Linked DNA regions of Homo sapiens. The protein of the gene in region 1 purifies or fractionates together with the protein of each later gene. This does not show direct contact. Each region holds a gene or a part of one and is shown on either strand. Other genes may lie near its edges.

The links.
Region 2: the proteins of TRPM8 (region 1) and KCNJ11 purify together in Homo sapiens (affinity purification with mass spectrometry; 2 studies listed by BioGRID and IntAct, with this or other methods). This does not show direct contact.

The regions. Positions count from the first base shown.
Region 1 is NC_000002.12:234,011,261-234,015,009, reverse strand, and holds part of TRPM8 (transient receptor potential cation channel subfamily M member 8), read right to left. Parts: intron 449-3,749; coding exon 398-448; 3' UTR 356-397; intron 1-355.
Region 2 is NC_000011.10:17,386,997-17,390,745, reverse strand, and holds the start of KCNJ11 (ATP-sensitive inward rectifier potassium channel 11), read left to right. Parts: upstream 1-2,086; 5' UTR 2,087-2,654; coding exon 2,655-3,749. UniProt on the Homo sapiens protein: Inward rectifier potassium channel that forms the pore of ATP-sensitive potassium channels (KATP), regulating potassium permeability as a function of cytoplasmic ATP and ADP concentrations in many different cells.

The DNA.
Region 1 (3,749 bases):
GGAAGATCAAAAAATAACAGAACTTGGAACAGTGTGACCTTGTTTCAATTCATGCCAAAATAGCTGCATAGGTTGCAAGTGTTTTAAAAGGTCCTACAGGACAAGATACTTACACCCTGCTCGTAGCAATGCTAATCCCTGGTGTGGGCAGCAAAATTGGTAGGGAAGGTAATGTGAGGAGGAACTTCAACTTGTTCTTTCTCTATCTCTGTATTTTTTTTTTTTGCACAATGCATTATTTTCAAATTTGGTAATTTATGGAAATAAAATAACTGAGGAAAAAATCATGATCTTAAATTAGTCTTAAAAGATGCAAATCTTCAGAGCAAAGTAAAAAGCTATTAGAATGACTCACCTTGCTATAATTAGATTTTTCTCCATTAGAGTTCATACAGTTTTATTTGATTTTATTAGCAATCTCTTTCAGAAGACCCTTGAGATCATTAAGCTTGGAAAGAGAAAAAAATAGAACTCATCTTAAGATAAATTTTCCAACTTTCATTTTTAAATTATCGCTCTGTGCCTTTTCTAAGAAACAGACATGTCTACTAAATAGCAAGCATGGCACATCTAAAATAAGGCAGAATGAGAGTGGCATGTGATATTTCAGATCCTGATCATTGCTTACTTTCTGAAATCATATCACTAGCAATTAGTAACCAATTAGTAAACCAATTAATATTAACTTTACTCAGATCCAAATCATTAGTGCTCCCAAACAGAAATAATAGATTGCAATAATACAAACAAGTAATATGTAAAAAGAATAATGTTCTATGTAACTAACATTAATAAAAGTATAAGATACTAATTAAGTTTTGCTTTGGTAAAAGTATAATACTAATAAAAATAATGTGATACTAAGAAATCAAATTTTTGCAAATAAAAGATTTCCCCACACACACAAAAACAGCAGACAATTTAAGTAAGAGGCATAATGAAATTAATCTTGATCCATGCATGTTTCACAAATTTATTACAAAAGATACATGAAGTCATTTTAAATTACATGTCATATTACTACATTTGCTAAAAGCAATTTCTGTACAGTTTGGTTTCTAATTTGCTTTATCACTCACTCAAGAAAAAAATCTGTATTTAAGTTGAGCTTAATTCCAGTAGTAACCTTTTACTTTAACTGTTTAAAAATAAAAGAAAAAAATGAAACTATAAGTGCTAACGGCTTCCTAAAATAAATAAGGCATAGTAAGATCCATACTTACAGACTTAAGATGAATTGTAAATAACTTTGTTTTCTGGTATAAGGAGATGGGGAAATTTTGTATTCCCTATAGGAGCTTTTGAAAGAGCCTTGTATTTGTTAATAGTAAAATGACTTTAGTAAGCTGTTTAAAGTAGAGCAAAAACTCCAAGAGCAAAATACATTTTTAAAAAAGAGAGTTGAAAAACAATGGGAAAAAAAATCATTGAAAGTAAGAGTTGGTTTTTTGAAAAGATAAACAAAATCAACAAACCTTTTAAGAAAAGGAAGAAGATACAAATAAATACAGTCAGAAATGAGAAAGACAACCTTACAACAGAGGGCATAGAAATGAAAGGGATCAGAAGGGGCTAGTATGAACAATTATATGCAAACAAGGTGGACAACCTAGAAGAAATGGAAATATCCCAGAAATGTACAACTTACAAAGACCTGAATCAAGAAGAAATACAAAGCCTGAACAGACAAACAACAAATGAAGAAAATGAAAATCAGCAATCAAAAAGCTTTCAACAAAGAAAAGCCCAGGATGGCTTACTGGGAAATCAGATGGCTTACTGGTAAATTCTAGCAGACAGTCAAAGAAGAACAAATGCCAAACCTTAGACTCTTCCAAAAAATAGAAAAGGGAACAAGTACAAATTCATTGTGTGAGGCCAGCATTGTTCTTTTACCAAAGCCGGAAAAAGATAACACAAGAAAAGAAAACTATAGGCCAATGTTCCTGAGGAACATAGATACAGAAATCTCAATAAAATACTAGCAAACTGAATTTCAGAGCATATTAAAAGGATCCGTGAAGACACCACCACCCAGGGGTATTTAGCCCTGGGATGCAAGGGTGGTTCAAAATATGAAGATTCATCAGTGTGATACACTACATTAACAGAATGAAAGACAAAAACCACATGATCATCTCAATAGATACAGAAAAAGTAGTTGACAAAATTCAAGGCCTTTTCATGATAAAAGAAAAAAAAAGACTCTCAACAAAATCGATATAGAAGGAACTTACTACAACACAATAAAGGCCATATATGAAAAAACCCACAACTAAAATCATATTTAATGGGGTAAAATTGAAAGCTTTTTCTCTAAGATCAAGAATAAGGCAAGGATGCCCATTCTCACCACTGCTATTTAACATAGCATGACAAGTTCTAGCCAGAGAAATCAGACAAGAAAAAAAGAAAAGAAAAGGCATCTAAATAACAAAGAAGAAAGTAAAATTATCTCTATTTGCATATAACATAATCTTATATGAAGAAAATCCTAAAGACTACACACACTCACACACACACACACACACACTCTCACACACACAAAAAAAAACTGTTAGGACTGCTGGGCGTGGTGGCTCATGCCTGTAATCCTAGCACTTTGGGAGTCCAAGGCAGGCAGATCACAAGGTCAGGAGATGGAGACCATCCTGCTCAACATGGTGAAACCCCATCTCTACTAAAAATACAAAAATTAGCCGGGCATGGTGGTGCACGCCTGTAATCCCAGCTACTCAGGAGGCTGAAGCAGGAGAATCGCTTGAACCCAGGAGGCAGAGGTTGCAGTGGGCTGAGATTGCACCACTGCACTCCAGCCTGGGTGACAGAGACTCTGTCTCAAAAAAAAAAAAAAACTGTTAGAACTCATAAATAAATTCAGTATATTTGCAGGATACAAAGTCAACACATAAAAATTAATGGCATTTCTATACACCAACAAAGAGCTATCTAGAAGGGAAATTATGAAAACAATCCATTAATATAAGTAACAAAAAGAATAAAATTCTTACAAATTTAACAAAGAAGTAAAAGACTGGTACACTGGAAATTATAAAACATTGATAAAGGAAATCTTTTTTTTTTTTTTTTTTTTTGAGACAGTCTCGCTCTGTCTCCCAGGCTGGAGTGCAGTGGCGCGATCTCGGTTCACTGCAAGCTCTGCCTCCCAGGTTCACGCCATTCTCCTGCCTTAGCCTCCAGAGTAGCTGGGACTACAGGTGCCTGCCACCACACCCGGCTAATTTTTCTGTTTTTAGTAGAGACGGGGTTTCCCTGTGTTAGCCAGGATGGTCTCGATCTCCTGACCTTGTGATCCACCTGCCTCGGCCTCCCAAAGTGCTGGGATTACAGGCATGAACCACTGCGCCCGGCCAGGAAATTTTAAAAGACACAAATAAATGGAAAAACATCCCATGTTCATGGATTGAAAAAATGAATATTGCCAAAATATCCATTCTACTCAAAGAAGTCTACAGATTCAATGCAATCCCTATCAAAATTCCATGAGCTTTTTTTTTAAAGAAATAGAGAAAACAATCCTAAAATTATATAAAACCACAGAAGATTCTGAATAGCCAAAGCAATCTTGAGCAAAAAGAACTAAGCTGGAAGCATCACACTTCCTGACTTCAAATTATATTACAAAGCTAAAGTAATCAAAACAGTACGGTACTGACATAAAAACAGACTATAGACCAATGGAATAGAATAAAGGGCCCAGAAATAAATTCACATATTTATAGCCAACT
Region 2 (3,749 bases), on another chromosome or scaffold:
GTGGCTCATCTCTGGTTATTGTTATTAGAACTGACTCTTGCATATGTGAAACCAAAGCCTGCCTCTGTTCCACTTAGTGTCCTGGTTCTACCCTTTGGGCCACAAAAAACTACTAGTTCATCCTCCTTCAAGGCCAGGTGTTTCTGCAATAGTGCCCAAATCCCTGGGGGACTTTCCTTTTCTGATGGCTGGACAGTTGTAGTTGCCTCAGAGATTTCCCCATGTAACCCTGTCTCCTTGAGCTTCCCACTCTGCTCATCTCATTTTACCCTCCCCTTCCTAGACACTGCATCTTTGTTAATATAGCCCATGATCACACCCATCCTTTGTAGCGGTGTTCGCTCTGCCTGCAGGTGGGTAGGGAGAGAAAGGAAAATCCAATATAAAATGCATATCTTGCCCCCACTGTGGCCCACAGCCACACTGCCTTTTCCAGACCCTGTCTCAAGCCCCCACTCCAACAAAATGGCCGCAGATGGTCAGGGGTTCTTCCATAAGGATCTGAGCCACAGACAGCGGTAAAGCCGTTACTGTTCCAACAACAGAGATCTAGCAGGCTTTCCCTCCCAGCTGAGAACCCGGGTCCATGCCACAGGGCAGCCTCAGGCTGATGCCTGAACAGAAACACCACCATGCCGGGACCAAGAGCCTGGGTCCCCCAGTGCCCGAGGCAGCCCTAACACACTGTTCAGGCCTAAATACCACCCATGACCTAACGTGGAAGAAGTCAGGTGACAGGTGTGAGAAAGTGTAAAGCAAGTGGCCTCGGCTCAAACCTTCTTTAAAGTAGGGCCGGAATGGCTGAGAAGATGGAGCCGCCCAGGCTGCCCCACAGCAGTAGCAGGTGTTAAACTGTGCTCCTTTCCTGCCGAGGCCTTTTTTTTTTTTTTTTTTTTTTTTTTTTTTAATGAGAGGGAGTCTGAGCTTCCATCAGATTGTCAAAGGATTCAAGACTAAGATTAAGAGCATCCCCCAAAGAGAAGCAGCTGCAGGTTGAGAAGTCCTCGGACCGCCTAATTTCCGCCAGCCCTGGGATTGGTGGCGCCGCCTCTCAGCGCCTCCTTTCCCGGGGAACCTGCAAACCTGGCGCGGCCGAGAGGCGGATTACTGACCCAAATACGGATGGGGATATTGGGGGAGGGGAGCCAGGGCGACAGGGCGGCGGCCCCAGACTGGGAGGGCGGGTCACAGATCCCTCCCAGCCCCCCACTTTCGTAGAGCGTGGGCAGGAGGAACCTCTGGGTTCCGCGGATCAGAAAAACTCCAAAGGCCGGGTTGTGAGTCCCGGGAGGGGAGGTGGAGGGCGGGGGCGGGGAGGGGCGCGGGAGGGGCGGGGGCTTGCTCCGGCCCCGCCCCCTGCGCTCCGGTGCAGGTCGGGCTCCCCCTGGCGGTCCCCGGCCCCGTTCCTCTCCTCGTGCGCCCCCCTCCCGCCGTCCTAGACCCCTGCCTAGCCCAGGTCGGTCTCCGCGGACCCACGGACGGACAGACAGACGGGAGGACGGCCAGCCGCGAGCGCCCGGGCGGCGGGAGGGGGCGGGGAGGCGACGGCCGTGGCGTGAGGAGCAGGAGCAGGTGCAGCGGCGGCGGCGGGCGGGGCCGGGACCCGGCGCGGAGCGGGAGCCGCGGCGCGGGCGGGCGGCAGGGACCGGGAGGCCGCGACTCGGAGTCAGCCCCGCCGGGTCGCGCGCAGGTCCGGGGAGCCGCGGTTGAGCCGGGTGGGGTGGTGACTCCAGAGAACGCAGGATCCCAAGGAGACAGAGAGGACGAGAGCTGGAGGGGGATCCGGAAAGCGGCGGGGGCGCTCCGGGAGGGGTGGAGTAGGACATAGGGGGCGCACCTGGAGGAGAGACGGGGCGGGGGTGGCCAGGACCTGAGCTGGAGCCTGGGAGCCCGAAGGCCAGACAGGTGAGGCGGGAGACCCGGAGGTGGGGGTGAGGTCCGGTTAGTGGGAGAGATCCGGAGGTGTTAAGTTCTGAGCTGGGCTGGGAAGGCAGGCTGGGCGGGGAGAAGGGCTCTTAGCGGGAGGCCCAGGGGTGGTCAGCTGGTGGGGGAAGCTGGGGGAGGACGCAGGGCCAGGTGGAGAGCCGGCAGGGTTGGGGGCTCCCTAGGCGCCAGGCAGGTGGGCTCAAGGGTGAGGCTGTTTTTTTTGTTTTGTTTTTTGTTTTTGAGACGGAGTCTCGCTCTGTCGCCCAGGCTGGAGTGCAGTGGCGTGATCTTGGCTCACTGCAACCTCCGCCTCTCGGGTTCAAGCGATTCTCCTGCCTCAGCTTCCTGAGTAGCTGGGATTACAGGTGCGCACCACCATGCCCGGCTAACTTTTGTATTTTTAGTAGAGATGGGGTTTCACCATGTTGGTCAGGCTGGTCTCGAACTCCTGACCTAGTGATCTGCCCTCCTCAGCCTCCCAACGTACTGGGATTACAGGCGTGAGCCACCGCGCCCGGCCTGAGGCTGGTATTAAGAAGTGAAGTGGGACCCAGGTGGAGGTAAGGAAGAGTCTGGTGGGGAGTTATCTCAGAAGTGAGGCCAGCACAGGCTGAGTGCAGCCCCAGGGTGAGAAGGTGCCCACCGAGAGGACTCTGCAGTGAGGCCCTAGGCCACGTCCGAGGGGTGCCTCCGATGGGGGAAGCCCCTCCCTGGGGGTCACCGGAGCCATGCTGTCCCGCAAGGGCATCATCCCCGAGGAATACGTGCTGACACGCCTGGCAGAGGACCCTGCCAAGCCCAGGTACCGTGCCCGCCAGCGGAGGGCCCGCTTTGTGTCCAAGAAAGGCAACTGCAACGTGGCCCACAAGAACATCCGGGAGCAGGGCCGCTTCCTGCAGGACGTGTTCACCACGCTGGTGGACCTCAAGTGGCCACACACATTGCTCATCTTCACCATGTCCTTCCTGTGCAGCTGGCTGCTCTTCGCCATGGCCTGGTGGCTCATCGCCTTCGCCCACGGTGACCTGGCCCCCAGCGAGGGCACTGCTGAGCCCTGTGTCACCAGCATCCACTCCTTCTCGTCTGCCTTCCTTTTCTCCATTGAGGTCCAAGTGACTATTGGCTTTGGGGGGCGCATGGTGACTGAGGAGTGCCCACTGGCCATCCTGATCCTCATCGTGCAGAACATCGTGGGGCTCATGATCAACGCCATCATGCTTGGCTGCATCTTCATGAAGACTGCCCAAGCCCACCGCAGGGCTGAGACCCTCATCTTCAGCAAGCATGCGGTGATCGCCCTGCGCCACGGCCGCCTCTGCTTCATGCTACGTGTGGGTGACCTCCGCAAGAGCATGATCATCAGCGCCACCATCCACATGCAGGTGGTACGCAAGACCACCAGCCCCGAGGGCGAGGTGGTGCCCCTCCACCAGGTGGACATCCCCATGGAGAACGGCGTGGGTGGCAACAGCATCTTCCTGGTGGCCCCGCTGATCATCTACCATGTCATTGATGCCAACAGCCCACTCTACGACCTGGCACCCAGCGACCTGCACCACCACCAGGACCTCGAGATCATCGTCATCCTGGAAGGCGTGGTGGAAACCACGGGCATCACCACCCAGGCCCGCACCTCCTACCTGGCCGATGAGATCCTGTGGGGCCAGCGCTTTGTGCCCATTGTAGCTGAGGAGGACGGACGTTACTCTGTGGACTACTCCAAGTTTGGCAACACCGTCAAAGTGCCCACACCACTCTGCACGGCCCGCCAGCTTGATGAGGACCACAGCCTACTGGAAGCTCTGACCCTCGCCTCAGCCCGC